Linked DNA regions of Homo sapiens. The protein of the gene in region 2 interacts with the protein of the main gene of each other region in a pairwise test. Each region holds a gene or a part of one and is shown on either strand. Other genes may lie near its edges.

The links.
Region 1: the proteins of RPIA (region 2) and FOXP2 interact in a two-hybrid assay, tested with the Homo sapiens proteins (2 studies listed by BioGRID).

The regions. Positions count from the first base shown.
Region 1 is NC_000007.14:114,409,866-114,417,820, reverse strand, and holds the start of FOXP2 (forkhead box protein P2), read right to left. Parts: upstream 3,007-7,955; 5' UTR 2,461-3,006; intron 1-2,460. UniProt on the Homo sapiens protein: Transcriptional repressor that may play a role in the specification and differentiation of lung epithelium. May also play a role in developing neural, gastrointestinal and cardiovascular tissues.
Region 2 is NC_000002.12:88,736,673-88,743,672, reverse strand, and holds part of RPIA (ribose-5-phosphate isomerase), read right to left. Parts: coding exon 6,997-7,000; intron 5,697-6,996; coding exon 5,597-5,696; intron 1-5,596. UniProt on the Homo sapiens protein: Catalyzes the reversible conversion of ribose-5-phosphate to ribulose 5-phosphate and participates in the first step of the non-oxidative branch of the pentose phosphate pathway.

The sequences.
Region 1 (7,955 bases), on a different chromosome or scaffold from region 2:
TCTAAAGAATGATCATTACCAAAAAAGGTTTCATAGTTCGTATATTTAATAGAAGTAATTATTTGCTTTTCATTTTTACAGTTCCAGTGTCAGTTGTTGCCCCTTTGTCATTAAAATAAAGATGAAAGCACTGATCATCAATAGGAAACCACAGCTTTAAAAACCCAAAGGGCTGGTGTGAACAGAGGTGGAAAATTAAAGCAAAGTGATATTGAAACAGCCCAATTCAACTTGCTTTAAGCATATGCAAATGAGATTCCACTGCTTAACTGCATCATTTATGTCGATAATATCAGCATCATCATTACAGGACTTGCAATTAAATTACATCATAATTAGCATTTCAAAGTGATTGGTTAAACTTTAAAACAAATACCCAATTCTGCTAATGAACAGTGCTAATTGACTTGTACATACTAAATAAAAGAGCTAGGTAAATATATGTTCTAGAAACAATTTTTAAAATTCATTGTTTTAGAGGAAACAAAAGGCAAAAATTAAAAACAGAAAATTGCCAGGGGGATTTGTATGCTGAAATTTAAAACATGTAGCATTTAATTTTATTGCACTAAAGAACCTATTAGATTCTAGACTCTAGAGAACAATGTAAATTATCTGCTTTCAGAATGGAGTTGGGCCAATTCTCTCTATCAACTAATCACAAACCTCATTATGCATAGGAGTATTAAATTATGAAGAAGCAGCATTCCACATTCCAGCACAAATCCCTATGAAATGTTAATAATATGCCCACAATAGCAGAATACCATGCCTTACTTGCCTTCATGAATAATAAAGTAAACAAATTATCTATCCACCTTTTACAAAGATTATTAGTATTTCAATGCATATAATTTTAGTGATCTTTAAAATAAAACGTGAGCATATTCTGTGAAATTTTACATGGGTTTAAAAAAAAAAGTCAAACAAGTTGTTTTCTAATAGAGCACCATATTTCTAAACAGATACCTGTAACCCTTCAATACCGTAATCTCTGTTAGGTATAGGACTCTGCTTTCCGTGAAAACCAACAGGCTAATCATTAAACCTCTCCACATATTCTCAAGTATACTTTGTTTCCAAACTTGTACAGCAGAAGGGCTGACTGTAAAGACAAATAAATATGCCTTTAAAAGGGCATTATGAATCAACTATAGATAATCAGATTTAAAGTCAGAACAGTTCAAAGATAAGGAACAATCGAAAATAAGAATGAAAGTTTTGTATTACACACACTATTGACGGTGAAAGTGATTCAAGATCTATTCTAAGCACACATTAAATAGAGTGCTTTTTTTTTTTTTTTTTTTGGTCGCGGAGGCTAGTAAACAAAAACCTGTCACTTAGGCTACAGTAAAGTGAAAATACATGGATGAAATTTAGGCGTTATTACCTGAAGGTGAAGAATGTCAAACTGGTCAGAGGAAAAAGCTGTTGGTGTTGCAGTAAGAACTTGCTCATGTCACTGGGAAAAGTGCAGCTATCTGTGTCATCCTCCGACTGTGTTTATACTGGCTTGCATCATAAACAAGCTCATCTTCCCTCATAGCTTGTTCATGCATACTTAAATCACCTTGCCCATTAAAAATGTCTCTCTTGACAATTATTCTATCATTTTCAGTTGTCATCAGGCAATTACTGTAGCCCTATGATGGGCCCAATAGGATCCCAGGTTCTGAGACGCTTTTTTGAAGCAGACAGAATGAAAAGTGCAGAAATGGTAATTTATAGCCCAGCCAAGCTACCTTTTTAACTGACACGAGTATTAAACTATCACACCTATTTGAAGAAATATAATGCAGTTTCTAAAAATTACTCATCAATTCACAATGTGTATTCCTGGAAATATATATATTTCTTCACAATCAGTGATTTGAAAAAGACCCACCAACCAATTTTTAATAAAATCATGAACATGCATATAAAACTACAAAGATCATCTGAGCCCTGACTCCTTTCATGTTTGTACAAGCTTAGCAAAAAGAGTTTCCCCTTTAGCACAAAATAAACATCTGCTCTACACAGCACGGCACAGAGAGGCACCCAAACGTGTGGTCAAACTCCCTTTTCAAAAACTTGCGCCCTGACACATACTGGGGCATTTACTAAAAGCAAGATGACATGGTTATTATCAAACCATGAAAGCAGGAACCCTGTCTTTATTCTTCTCAAGATCTTGCAGATTTTTTTTTAATACAAAAGAGGCCTTCTTTATTTGCTGTCTTTACTAGTGATAGCTTAAATCTACATTACGCTACTGACAGATCAAAAACAGTTCCTGTGTCTGGTCTCCCGGCTTTTCCCTCGCAAACAGATACAATGCTCTAGTTCATTTCAATGAGCTACAGTCTCAGAAAAAAAAAAAAGTAAAGCAATTGCCAAATCTACCAGTAAAGCAATCGTAAAATCCCACCCCTCTCTAAACTCTTACAGATATTCTCTTAGCAAAAAGTAACGTACCTTCTCTGGAAATGTTAGAGCAAACTTCCCGGTTTCAACTTCATAGGAGTTTGTTAAAGAGATGAAAAATTAGGAAGATTCAAAAAAGCCAGCACAGAAAACAGTATAAAAAGAAGGGAAAACTCAGAAGCTAGCTCACTGTCAAAGCCACCATCAGACAACTATTTACAGCAGTATTTACACTACTGTGAGTACACCTCTGCCCGATCACGTCCCAGACTGATGGCATTTTGTGCTGGTAATTAAAACAAATCAAGCAGCTCTGTGATTGTTTTGGCGTCCGTGGACAATCGTACACAAAATCAGCATTTAATCACTAGGGTATGTCTTTGGTGTGCAACGTGAGGGGTGACAAAGGTTCAAGACTGAGCCAGCATGCTTACCATAATCTTTCTAAAGTAAGTGCTTCATTTTTGTGTGTGTGTATGTGTGTGTGTGCATGTGTGTGAGTGTGTGAGTGTGTGTGTGAGAGAGAGAAAGACAGAGAGAGAGAGACAAAAGCACCAGTTTGAGTCTCTCAAGTCCTCGGTTAGCTTTCATGTCTGTGATAAATACACTTCTTGCTTCCCTTATTAGGACAAGCTTACCATTATACACTGCACTTTTGGTAAAGCTCCAGTGCTCTGCAATTTACAGCCAAAGGAAGTAGTTTACAAAAATAAGCAAACCCAAGACAAGCATTTCACAGCCACAACATCAGATAAGCCAGAAAGAAATAATCTTCAATGCACATCAAAACCACTTCACAATGACAATTTGTCCAAGCAGATGTTAATCAAGCTTCAGCCTTTGAACACTAGATACCATCAATTACTAACCTTAATTGAAATCACAGTTCTCCAGCTTCTCTGCCAGCATATTCAGAGGATGATGTATTAAGATATTTACAGTAAAGTAAACAATGCATAGTTGCAATGAAATGGAAAATTTTCAGCTAATGGTGTTTGTCAATCCTTTGTCAATTTTTCTGCCTGCCACAGATGTTTTCTTAGCTGTTTCACAAAAACAGGAATCAACTAGCAGAGAAGAAAGACTTTCTCTCCCCCAGGAAAAGAGTACAAAGCCAAGTCTGTACACAGCAGATGCAAAAGAAAGTCCATCTGCTACCAGCTCACAACACCACATGGAGTTTTAAGATTTTATACTGTAGGTAGCCTAGCAGGGTTTGTGTGGACCCCATAAGCATGAAAGGAAGAGAAATGGTAGCCTCAAACTGTTAAGGTAAAAACTACAGCTACAGAGACAGAATGAACAACTTACTGAAGCTGGTAAATCAAAGGTTTATTTGCAATAATTTTCCTCCTATTGCAAGAACTGACTAGTTTTTTAGGAGTTACACCCAAGACAGGAACGACACTGTCTTAGTTTTATGGCCTTTAACTCTGGGCAAGACAACTTGAACTCACAGGTCTCAGCTGAACACCATCGTGAGTGGACAAGCTTTAACAGCACCCCACCTACAACTTAATGTGAGACAAAACAACAGTTACTGAACAAAGCACTTCGAAGAGATCTTTAACCGGCCACCACTCCTGCCACTGACTTATCTTGTTTTAGTTTCTTCAGATGAGTAACATCTGCCACTACTTTTGTTGCACATTTAAATACTAAACAGAAGAGGGAAAGATGTATAAAGAAGTACTTAAAATAACTGCTTCTAATAGCCTTTAATACAGACATTTTGGGTAAGTAATTACAGCAAATTTCACATTTCACCTTCAACCCCTGAGGCTGCACTATTTCTCCACCTCCCCTGAAAGGAACTGAAAGCACTTATTCTTTAGCTCTGTGATACAAAACCGTTTAATATTCTGTTAGCAATTTTTTTCATTTTATAGTTAAATAATTCACTCATTAAAAGTATGTTTATATTGGTTTTTTTTTAAACCAAAATTTAAACACAGGAAACTCATGCAATAGGCAAGTACCTGTAAACATTTATTTTTAACATTTTTTTATCAGATTGTGAACAAAGCAAATGAAATTATATGAGCAATAGTAACTTATATTTTAAGGGAATTAAACAACTGCGAATATTCAAGTATCAGGAATATATTTTTTAAGTCTGCTTTGTTCATTTAAAAATTTTTTCTCCCAACTCTTCACAGTTTACAGGGCTTCCACATTTCAAAGAAACTGTGAATAATGTATACAATGACACAAATGACTTTATGTACTCCAGAGGAAATAAAGGATAGTTTCCATTATCACATCAGTCAAATAACATTTTCACACAAATCTGTTTACATTCACTAAAATGATAACATAATGCTCTTCAGCAATAGTGCCTTATCAACCTAGAAAGCAGTGTAGTAGCAATTAACATAAAATTTAAAAGCTTACACTCATTTTTACCAACAAAAGTTAAAAAAATTGATACCTCTGACATTCAAAAATATTGTTATAAATATGTAAATTCATTTTTTTAAGTAAAATATTTGCATCTCCTTTCCTCCTCCAGGCTTTTGAACTTCTGAGGTCAACAAGGACAAACAATACCACTAGTGTCTCTTTGCAAAAAGCTGGGTTTGCTGTCTGCAAGCAATGGTATCATTTCCATAGCAACCCCCTAACTATTAATTTTCAATTAAAGCAGACACAAAGCGGACAGCCTCAGGCTGGCAGACAGTGTCAAGAGCCCATCTCTGTAGGCAACAGTTTCACACAGCTATCAAGCCATAGGTGCCTCCCGCACAAAGCTGCATCGGGGTACGTCAAGTTTGGCTGGTTACAATGACATTAACCTTCAGTTCAGGCCTAAATAATTTATAGCAAGCTTCACTAAGCACATATAAAGGTGACAAAAACTAGGAAAAGAAATAATTAACTAATGCAAATACCTCCCAATAAACACAAACAATCTCACACACACACAAATGTATTAGGAAGAAGTGTATAACCATTTTGTCAAGTCATTTGTTCCTGAAGAGTCCCACATTCTTTACTATCAGCACACTACTCTTCGATATCACCTGGAAATAACTCCAGGTTATTAAAGAAAATGTTACACTCTGCATATTAGTTTTCACAATCAAATTTTGCTTAACATAAAAGACTATGACTACATTACATTACATAGTAAAACTCCTTTCATTTTATAACCCTATGGCAGGTACGTGATCAGGAAGATGCCACTAAGTAAAAAAATTTTAACTTATATCTTCCAAAATAATCATAGTAATTTTAAAAATAGATTGCTAACCAGACTGTGGTGTTTTCTTTCTATGCCCTTATTATGATTTCTTCCAATAGCAAATCTTTAAAAATATTTTTTAATTTCTTAAACATGAGATGACCTATTAGCAATTCCACTGAACTATAACACTGGTAATTTTGTACTATGACACCTGAGTTTGTTCAAAACAAGCACATTTCAAGGCATAACATAGCAAACATTTTGCTGTATTAAAATCTATTTCAAAAACACATTGAATACCTACTATGTGCCATGCACTGGCTCCATGAAAACTAATCTTGTTTTCCCCCAAAATAGTTATGGAAAAGAATGTATGAAAGGTCAAATTTCCCCCACACTGGATATGATCAGTTGTAAATCCCCTGGACAACTGTCAGCTTTGAGAAGACTTGGTTCTTCTCTCTAGTGCAGAGGGATCTATAAGCAAGACACATCGAATGAGCTAGGACACTGATTAAATACCAATCTTGAAAGCAGCAGAACAAACTAACAGGAAAAAATGCCCAGTGCTATCAAAACTGTAACATTGTAACAATAAAATCTAAACTAAATCGGTGGCATTTACTAAATTGCAGCCACCATTTCAAACAGATAAAAGATGAAATACATATTTTAACAAAACAGAAACATGGAAGAACTGCCTGCTTTGTTTTACAGCAGTACTGTGAAATTCCTTTATTCAAAAATGGTCAAGTCTCCATATTTTGAGCGTTATGCTTACCTTCTATTTAATCTCACATAAAAATGAATATAAACTACAGGGGAATTCTGTGCTTTTTCAAATGTGTGTCTGATTTGAGTTACAGGTGTATTTGTTGTCAGAAACTTGAGTGGGAAAAATTTCATTTCTATTTATTTTAATCAGCATTTTAATACATAACACAGGCTTGGGGCTAATCCCAATTTCCTTTCTATTAGTCTAAGCACATTCACATACCATTACAGTAATCCAAAATCGAAAGCCAGATAAAGAATATGGTATACCTTTGGCGATGTGAGGTTTCAAAACACAGTGTTCTTCTGTGGCCACCACATAAGTTTGGCTCCAGAGTTGCACTGAATCCCAATCTTAATACCTTACTCATGTGTCTTTTTTCCCATTGCCATTTATGTATGCATTTTATCTTCCTGTCCCAAACACTAAGTTCGCTGAGAGTGCAATGTTTTATGTTAGATACTCTATCTACTAGCATAACCTACATATAAAGTCTTGAAATATTTGTTGCCTAAATGAATAAATAAATCTAATACTTAATAGATGAAAGTGACAAGTCTTTTCTTTTTTTTTTTGGCTACTGCCACCTTCATCTACTATTTTCTACTGCCTACACTCCAACAGTATTATTGAGAGGGGTATTTCAGAGAAAGAATAGTTGAGAGATGCAAGTTCGGAAACTACCTGTGTATAGCTATAACATATCCAAGACATCTTTTCCAAAGGCGGTGGTAATTTTTTCTCAAGGAAACACATACTGTTTATTGAAAGTCAACTCTCCTCATCTATACACAGTGATCAATCTCACATGCACTGCCATACTTTTTATGGTAGACAATAGAAGAAATAAGTTTTGTTACATAAAACAAAAAGGAAAATATTTATTGAGCATCTACTACATCCAGGCATATTATGAATGTTTACATGCATCATATCTAATCCTTCCCTCCAGCCTGAAAAGCAGATAATATTACCTTTTTTACAGATGAAGACAGTGGGACTCCCATATTTTAAGTTCCTCAGGGTCAAACAATATCTATGTCTTTTTTGACTCAAATGCCTGTGTTCTTTCTGTTCTGCCACAATGTTTCCCTAATAAACTTTATTTACAGAATATCTTCTACGTACAGAGTACTCTGTTGGGTGTCATGGGAAAGTAGGAGAAGAATTCATAGTAAAATCCGATCTAGTCTCTGCCCTGAAAACTCTCAATCAAGTACTACAGATATGTATCTAACCCTGCCTAGAATATAGAGTATGAGGAATATGTGAAGAGAGTACAACGCCATTTAGTGGTGTGTGTTCTGAACTAGGAAAGATAATAGCTGAGAGAACAAAGAAGTCTATATGGCGAAGATCCCAGTATTGGAACTGCCCCCCAAATAACAGGCAGGATTTTTTTAAGAGGAAATATATTTGACAGTGCTCCAGAAAAAGTGAAGCAAAACTAAAGACATAATGATGAGTTCTATCCCAAGGCAGGCATGTGGTTCAGATAGATTGGAGCTTAGTCAGTCAGTGAGTAATGGAATACACTAGGGTGAGTTAGGTCTGAAACTGGAGGTGTCAGAAGGAGAAGCCCAA
Region 2 (7,000 bases):
AAAAGTCCAGAACCAAATGGATTCACAGCTGAATTCTATCAGACATTCAAAGAATTGGTAGCAATCCTACTGAAACTATTCCAAAAGATGGGAAAAAAAGGGAATCCTCTCTAAATCATTCTATGAAGCCAGTATTACCCTAATACCAAAACCAGGAAAGATCATAACAAAAAAAGAAAACTACAGACCAATATCCCTGATGAACATAAATGCAAAAATACTCAACAAAATACTAGCTAGCCAAATCCAACAGCATATCAAAAAGATAATACACCATGATCGAGTGCGTTTCATACCAGGGATGCAGGGATGGTTTAACATATGCAAGTCAACAAATGTGACACACCACATAAACAATCTAAAACAAAAATCATACGATCATCTCAATAGATGCAGAAAAAGCATCTATCAAAATCCAGCATTGCTTTATTATTAAAACCCTCAGCAAAATCAACATAGAAGGGACATACCTAAAGGTAATAAAAGCCACCTATGACAAACCTACAGCCAGTATTATACTGAAAGGGGAAAAGTTGAAAGCATTCCCCCTGAGAACTGGAACAAGACAAGGATACCCCGTTTCACATACCCAGTATCCAACATACTATTGAAGCCCTAGCCAGAGCAATCAGACAAGACAAAGGGCATCCAAATCAGTAAAGAGGAAGTCAAACGGTTGCTGTTCACTAATAATATGATCATATACCTAGAAAACCCTCAGGACTCATCCAAAAAGCTCTTAGATCTGATAAATGAATTCCGTAAAGTTTCAGGATACAAAAATCAATGTGCACAAATCAGTGGCACTGCTATACACCAACAGCAACCATGTAGAGAATCAAATCAAGAACTCAACCCCTTTTATGACAACTGCAAAAAAAATAAAATACTTAGGAGTATACCCAACCAAGGAGGTGAAAGATCTCTACAAGGAAAACTACAAAATACTGCTGAAAAAAACCACAGACAACACAAATGGGACACATCCCATGCTCATGGATGGGTAGAATCAGTATTGTGAAAATGACCATATACTGCCAAACGCATTCTACAAATGCAATGCCATTCCCATCGAAATACCGCCATCATTCTTCACAGAACTAGAAAAAAAATCCTAAAATTCATATGGAAAAGCAAAGAGCCCACATAGCCAAAGCAAGACTAAGCAAAAAGAACAAATCTGGCAGCAGTACATTACCTGACTTCAAACTACACTATAAGGTCATGGTCACCAAACAGCATGGTACTGGTATAAAAACAGGCATATAGACCAATGGAATAGAATAGAGAAGCCAGAAATAAAGCCAAATACTTACAGCCAACTGATCTTCAACAAAGCAAACAAAAATATCAAGGGGGAAAGGACACCCTATTCAACAAATGGTGCTGGGATAACTGACAAGCCACATATAGAAGAATGAAACTGGATTCTCATCTCTTATACAAAAAATCAAATCAAGATGGATCAAAGACTTAAATTGAAGACTTGAAACTATAAAAACTCTAGAGGACAACACTGAAAAATCCCTTCTAGACACTGGCTTAGGCAAAGATTTCATGACGAAGAACCCAAAAGCAAATGGAACAAAAACAAAGATAAGTAGGTGGAACTTAATTAAAATAGAGAGCTTCTGCACAACAAAAGGAACAGTCAGCAGAGTAAACAGTCAACCCACAGAGTGGGAGAAAATCTCCACAATCTATACAACTGAAAAAGGACTAATATCTAGAATATATAAGGAACTCAAATTAGCAAGAAAAAAAATCCCATCAAAAAGTGGGCCAAGGACATGAATAGACAATTCTCAAAAGAAGATATACAAATGGCCAACAAACATATGAAAAAATGCTCAACATCACTAATGATCAGGGAAATGCAAATCAAAACCACAATGCAATACCACCTTACTCCCGCAAGAATAAAAAAATAATAGATGTTGGCATGGATGCAGTGAAAAGGGAATACTTTCACACTGCTGGTGGGAATGTAAACTAGTACAACCACTGTGGAAAACAGTGTGAAGATTCCTTAAAAAACTCAAAAGTAGAACTACCATTTATTTGATCCAGCAAAACCACTACTGGGTATCTACCCAGAGGAAAAGAAGTCATTATATGAAAAGGACATTTGTACACACATGTTGATAGCAAAACAACTTGCAATTTCAACAATATGGAACCAGCCTAAATGCCTATCAACCAATGAGTGGATAAAGAAAATGTGATATATATACACATACACACACACACCATGGAATACTACTCAGCCATAAAAAGGAATGAAATAATGGCATTCACAGCAACCTGGATGGAGTTGGAGACCATAATTCTAAGTGAAGTAACTCAGAGATGGAAACCCAAACATCGTATGTTCTCACTTATAACTGGGAGCTAAGCTATGAGGACGCAAAGGTGTAAGAATGATACAACAGACTCTGGGGACTCAGGGGAAAGGGTGAGAGTGGGACAAGGGAGAAAAGACTATGCATTGGGTACAGTGTACGCTGCTTGGGTAATGGGTGCAACAAAATCTCAGAAATCACCACTCAAGAACTTATCCATGTAGCCAAACATCACCTGTTTCCCAACAACTATTGAAATAATTTTAAAAATTAAAAAAAAACTCCCAAAGACAGCTCCCAATAAACAAATGAAACGGAGTAGTGATCGAGTGACGAAAAGCCAACAGGCAGAGCAAAGAGTTGCTGAACACAAATAAAGGTCCCTGGCACCAAACTGTGCCTATGCAACTGGATCCTTCCAAAGATGAGCAAAGTAGCCACTCAAGACCCGTTTTCAAAATGTCTGCAATATAAGGAGAAAGCATCCACTGATCCAAAAAACAGTTAAATCAGGTTCAGAAAAGGCTTTAAAGAAAGAGCAGAGATGAATGGGCAGCAGTCTAAGGTAAGACTTTAGAGCAACTTCTCTTTCAATTACTGAGATGCTGGGTGTGACTGACCTCCCCCAACTCCCCGATAAAATATAGTGGAAAGAGCAGAGGATGCTAAATGTGAACCTAGGGGAAAGAACTCCAGTAGCCCTGGCCCTTCAATTCAGTCACTCTGCTCTGGGTGGAACACAACAAAACATCAAAGGGAGTTGTTTTCTAAGCGTCCTCACATACTGTGTACGAATGCACATGGTAACAGAGATAAACAGGGAAACTCGCCCTACTTCTATTCTCCTGATACTGGTCCAGCCGTGAATCTAATGGACTCAATCAGGAAAAGAAAAAATGAGAAAAGATACAGCAAACCACTCTGATTGTCCTGTAGATATCACATTATATGATTTAATAGCTAGCCTCTTTTATCATTTTCCTCACTTTAAGTTCCTAACAAAACTCTGAACGTCTTTAGGACGCAGCTTCTACATACTTTTTTTTGAAGAATCACATATGAGGGAAATTTCCTTACAAAGGACATTTCAGAACCTTAAGCAGCCAAGGTCTAACCAGGAGCAAGAGTGACACCTAGTGGGCACTGCAAGAACTCCACCTATACGGCAGCCACATTGGTGAGCCCTTTCCTCCTGGGGCCCTGGGTTTGTTTGCATTATCACCAAGGGCAAGTTCTCCCATTTTACTAACAGTGATTTGCAAATCTTCTCTTCCTCCTACCTTCTTGGCTGTTTAGTTCTTCCACTAAAGAGGGAACACTAACCAAGAAAATGAGTATAAGCCAACTCATGTTTTTGACTTAACGTGGTAAAAGACTATCAATAACAAACTAAACTAAAATAACAAACTAAAGTAGAATTGGGGCCAGGCACAGCGGTTCACACCTGTGATCCTGGCACTTTGGGAGGCCAAGGGAGACTTTGAGCCCAGTTCAAGACCAGCCTGGACAACATCGTGAAACCCCGTTTCTATAAAAAATTCAAAACTTAGCCGGTCCTGGTGGTGTGTGTCTGCAGTCCCATCTACTGGGGACGCTGAAATGGGAGAACTGTTTAAGCCCAGGAGGTCAATGCTGCAGTAAACCATGATCACACCACTACACTCCACTCTGGGTGACAGAGCGAGACCCTATCTCAAAAAATTAATAAATAAAGTAGAACTGGAAGAACTAGCTTTTCATTACACAGCTTATATTCACACTATTTTAAATCCCAACTAGCACAGGTGTATCTTAGAATCTTAGTATATTTAATTAAAAATAACAATAGTACCTTTCTTTCAAGGGATTTATTCATTCAACAAACACTTTCCCTTCTGCAATGGGCACGGTTTTAACTCATTTAATCCACCCAACAACCTTATAAGGTAGGCACTAGAATTAACTAGCCCCTTCTACATAGGAAGAAACTCGGGCACAGAGATGTTAACTAACTGCTAAAAGGTAACACGCCAGAGCACAGCTGGGTTAGGATCCTTATCCAGAATAGTCTGCTCCATTAAACTGGCCTGAAAGGTCCTGTCAGCCAGTTCTGGCCCAAGAATACTCCATGATAGGGAATATTCCGTTAGCCTCTTAGTCTCGCAATATCCTAAGAAGCTGATACCTCTCAAGACTGCCTCCTCCTTTTAATCCCCCTGTACGAGCCCTTGATACCTCCTCTAGCCTGGACCAGGACTCCAGCCTCAACCAGGACTCCAGCCTCATAACTCATCTCTACACTGCCCACCCATCCTTCACGCAGGGCCATCCTGGCTCTTATTCCATCATTCCCTGGCACAGCTGCATTAGAAGCTCCCCAAGGCTCTAAATGTTCATTTCACACAGCCTCTCCTCGCCTGGTGCTTCAGCAAGTAAGCATTAAACATTCAGGGTCTAGTGGCAGACAACTTAGGGTGCCCATCTTGGTGCTGTCTTTGGGCAAATGGCTTAACCTTTCTCAGCCAGTGCCCTCCTCTGTAACTACCTCATCAAAGTGGGAATCAAAGGAAATATTTTTAGACGTTTAGCACCGTGTTTAACTTATGTTATGCCAAGGCATGGATGAAAAACCACCTCTACACCATAGAACATCCTCACATTCTCCCAAAAAGAAACTTTTTGTGCACTCTAGACTCTTGGTATTCCTCTAGTAGAATTGAGCACATTCTATCTTATTTGTAGGCATGGCTTCTACACACACACACAGATTTCCCCAGGTTTACATCAATTCTCCTTGAGGACAGATTACAAGTCCTCCAGATCGAAGTATCCCCTGTAACACACAGCACAACATCTTGCCTTTGGCATGCATCCAATGAATGTGGATTAACTGAGTCATTTTCCCCGCTACTTAAGAAGAGAACCCACAAAAAAAGGCTGTAGTCCAGCTCCTGGAAGGAAAGGTTCTACCCAGAGACGATGGCCTTATTTCAAGGCAAGTCCCCTCTGAACTTCCATCAGCTTCAGGACTATCTTAACTCAAACAGGCTGTGAAATGCACAAGCAACAAAGCTGCTAGGTAAGCAACAATTGTTGGGGGAAGGGAATACGGCAAAGGAGGTGAAGTTAAAAACCCAAACATGGTATAAAGGGAATTCTTCTTTCCAACCAAGCCTTACAAAGCCCATGTCCATTGTGCCTTCTGTGGCCAGATGTAGGGGCCAGTTATGAAGGCCATGGGTGTGTATATGACTGGTGAACACCACTCATGTTACCTGGGATCATTTTGATAGCTGTATTCACTTCACTCCATTTGTGTACCCGGTCAAACTTCCAGTCCAAGATAAAATTCCCATTATCTGTCACCACAGGACCCTAGAAGATAATTTTCCACAGTGACCAAGGATGCAGATACAGGTAGGCAGAGAAGGACAGGAAAGTAGAGGGGATAACCAAAGACAAGTATGCATTTTAACCTGCTCCCACCTTATGCTTTCTAGGTGTGCTGTGAAGTGGTAATAAGCAGGAGCTTTGAAATCAGAAAGACTTAGATTGTAGTCTTTTTTTTTTTTTGAGAGAGAGAGAGAGGATACAAGCCTCTTAACAAATGTATCAAGCTATTTTTACTCACATGAGCTCCCACTATGACTATGTGACCATGTCACAATTATCACCACATTCCTATCTGATTTCTGGTTCATTGTTCTTACTTCCTTTAGTCCAAAATTCATTGTTCTTATCTGCTTCCTTAAGTTACTACTTGGCTAATAAGAAAAAGGGCAAGAAACAGAATCCAAAACACAATAAGAACACTAGCAGCAATGTGGCTTTCAAATAAGAACTCTGACAGGGTCAAGGTTGAACGACTTCTCCATTTTGTGCTACATTTCTTTCATGTGCCGACAATCTGAACGTCAGTCAGAGCACTGTACAACCACTAGGAACAGAACTACGGTTTTTTTTTAAAAGTCACAGAAACAGTGGGGACAAAATATATCAAAATAAAAATGTATCAGGGTAGGGTGACAGATCTTTTCGATATCCTCCAAAATGTTTACGTAGTTACATATGTAACTGTGGTTAGCTTCTGGATTGCTGTCTTTGCTTATTTGTTTACTTAAGTATAAAAAGAGGGAAAAGTTATGCGCAATCCACTTTAGAAGCTAAAGAGAAACACGAAAAATTTGGACCATCTGGAGAGTATTCCTTGGGAAGAGTTCACACACCCCAAGAAATTCTACTTCTTGTCACATTTAACCACAGAATGAGAGGAAAGAAGAGGGAGAAAAGAAGTTACACCATGGAACCTAAAAAACTTTCTGTTCCAAGCAGTTCCCAAAGCCAGGGTTTCACAGCTGCCAATCAGGGTGTTCCAGGCCTCAGGCACAAAGGTCAGATCACCTGTGGGATGTCAGAACCTGAGGCACAGAGAAAGAATCATTCCCCTATCTGTACAAAGGAGATGCACTGTATTAAGTGTGGTCTTGTCTACACGAGTTTGAATGCAGAAACTAACAGGCCAATTCTCCGAAAATAAACAAATACATCAATTAAAAATAAATAAAAGCCAATTGCCTGGTGGAAGCACACATGACCTAACTGCAACAGAAGGGAGGACACCACACTGAAAACCTGAGTGCACCCAGCACACCCCCGGCCCAACCAGGCCACTCACAGCC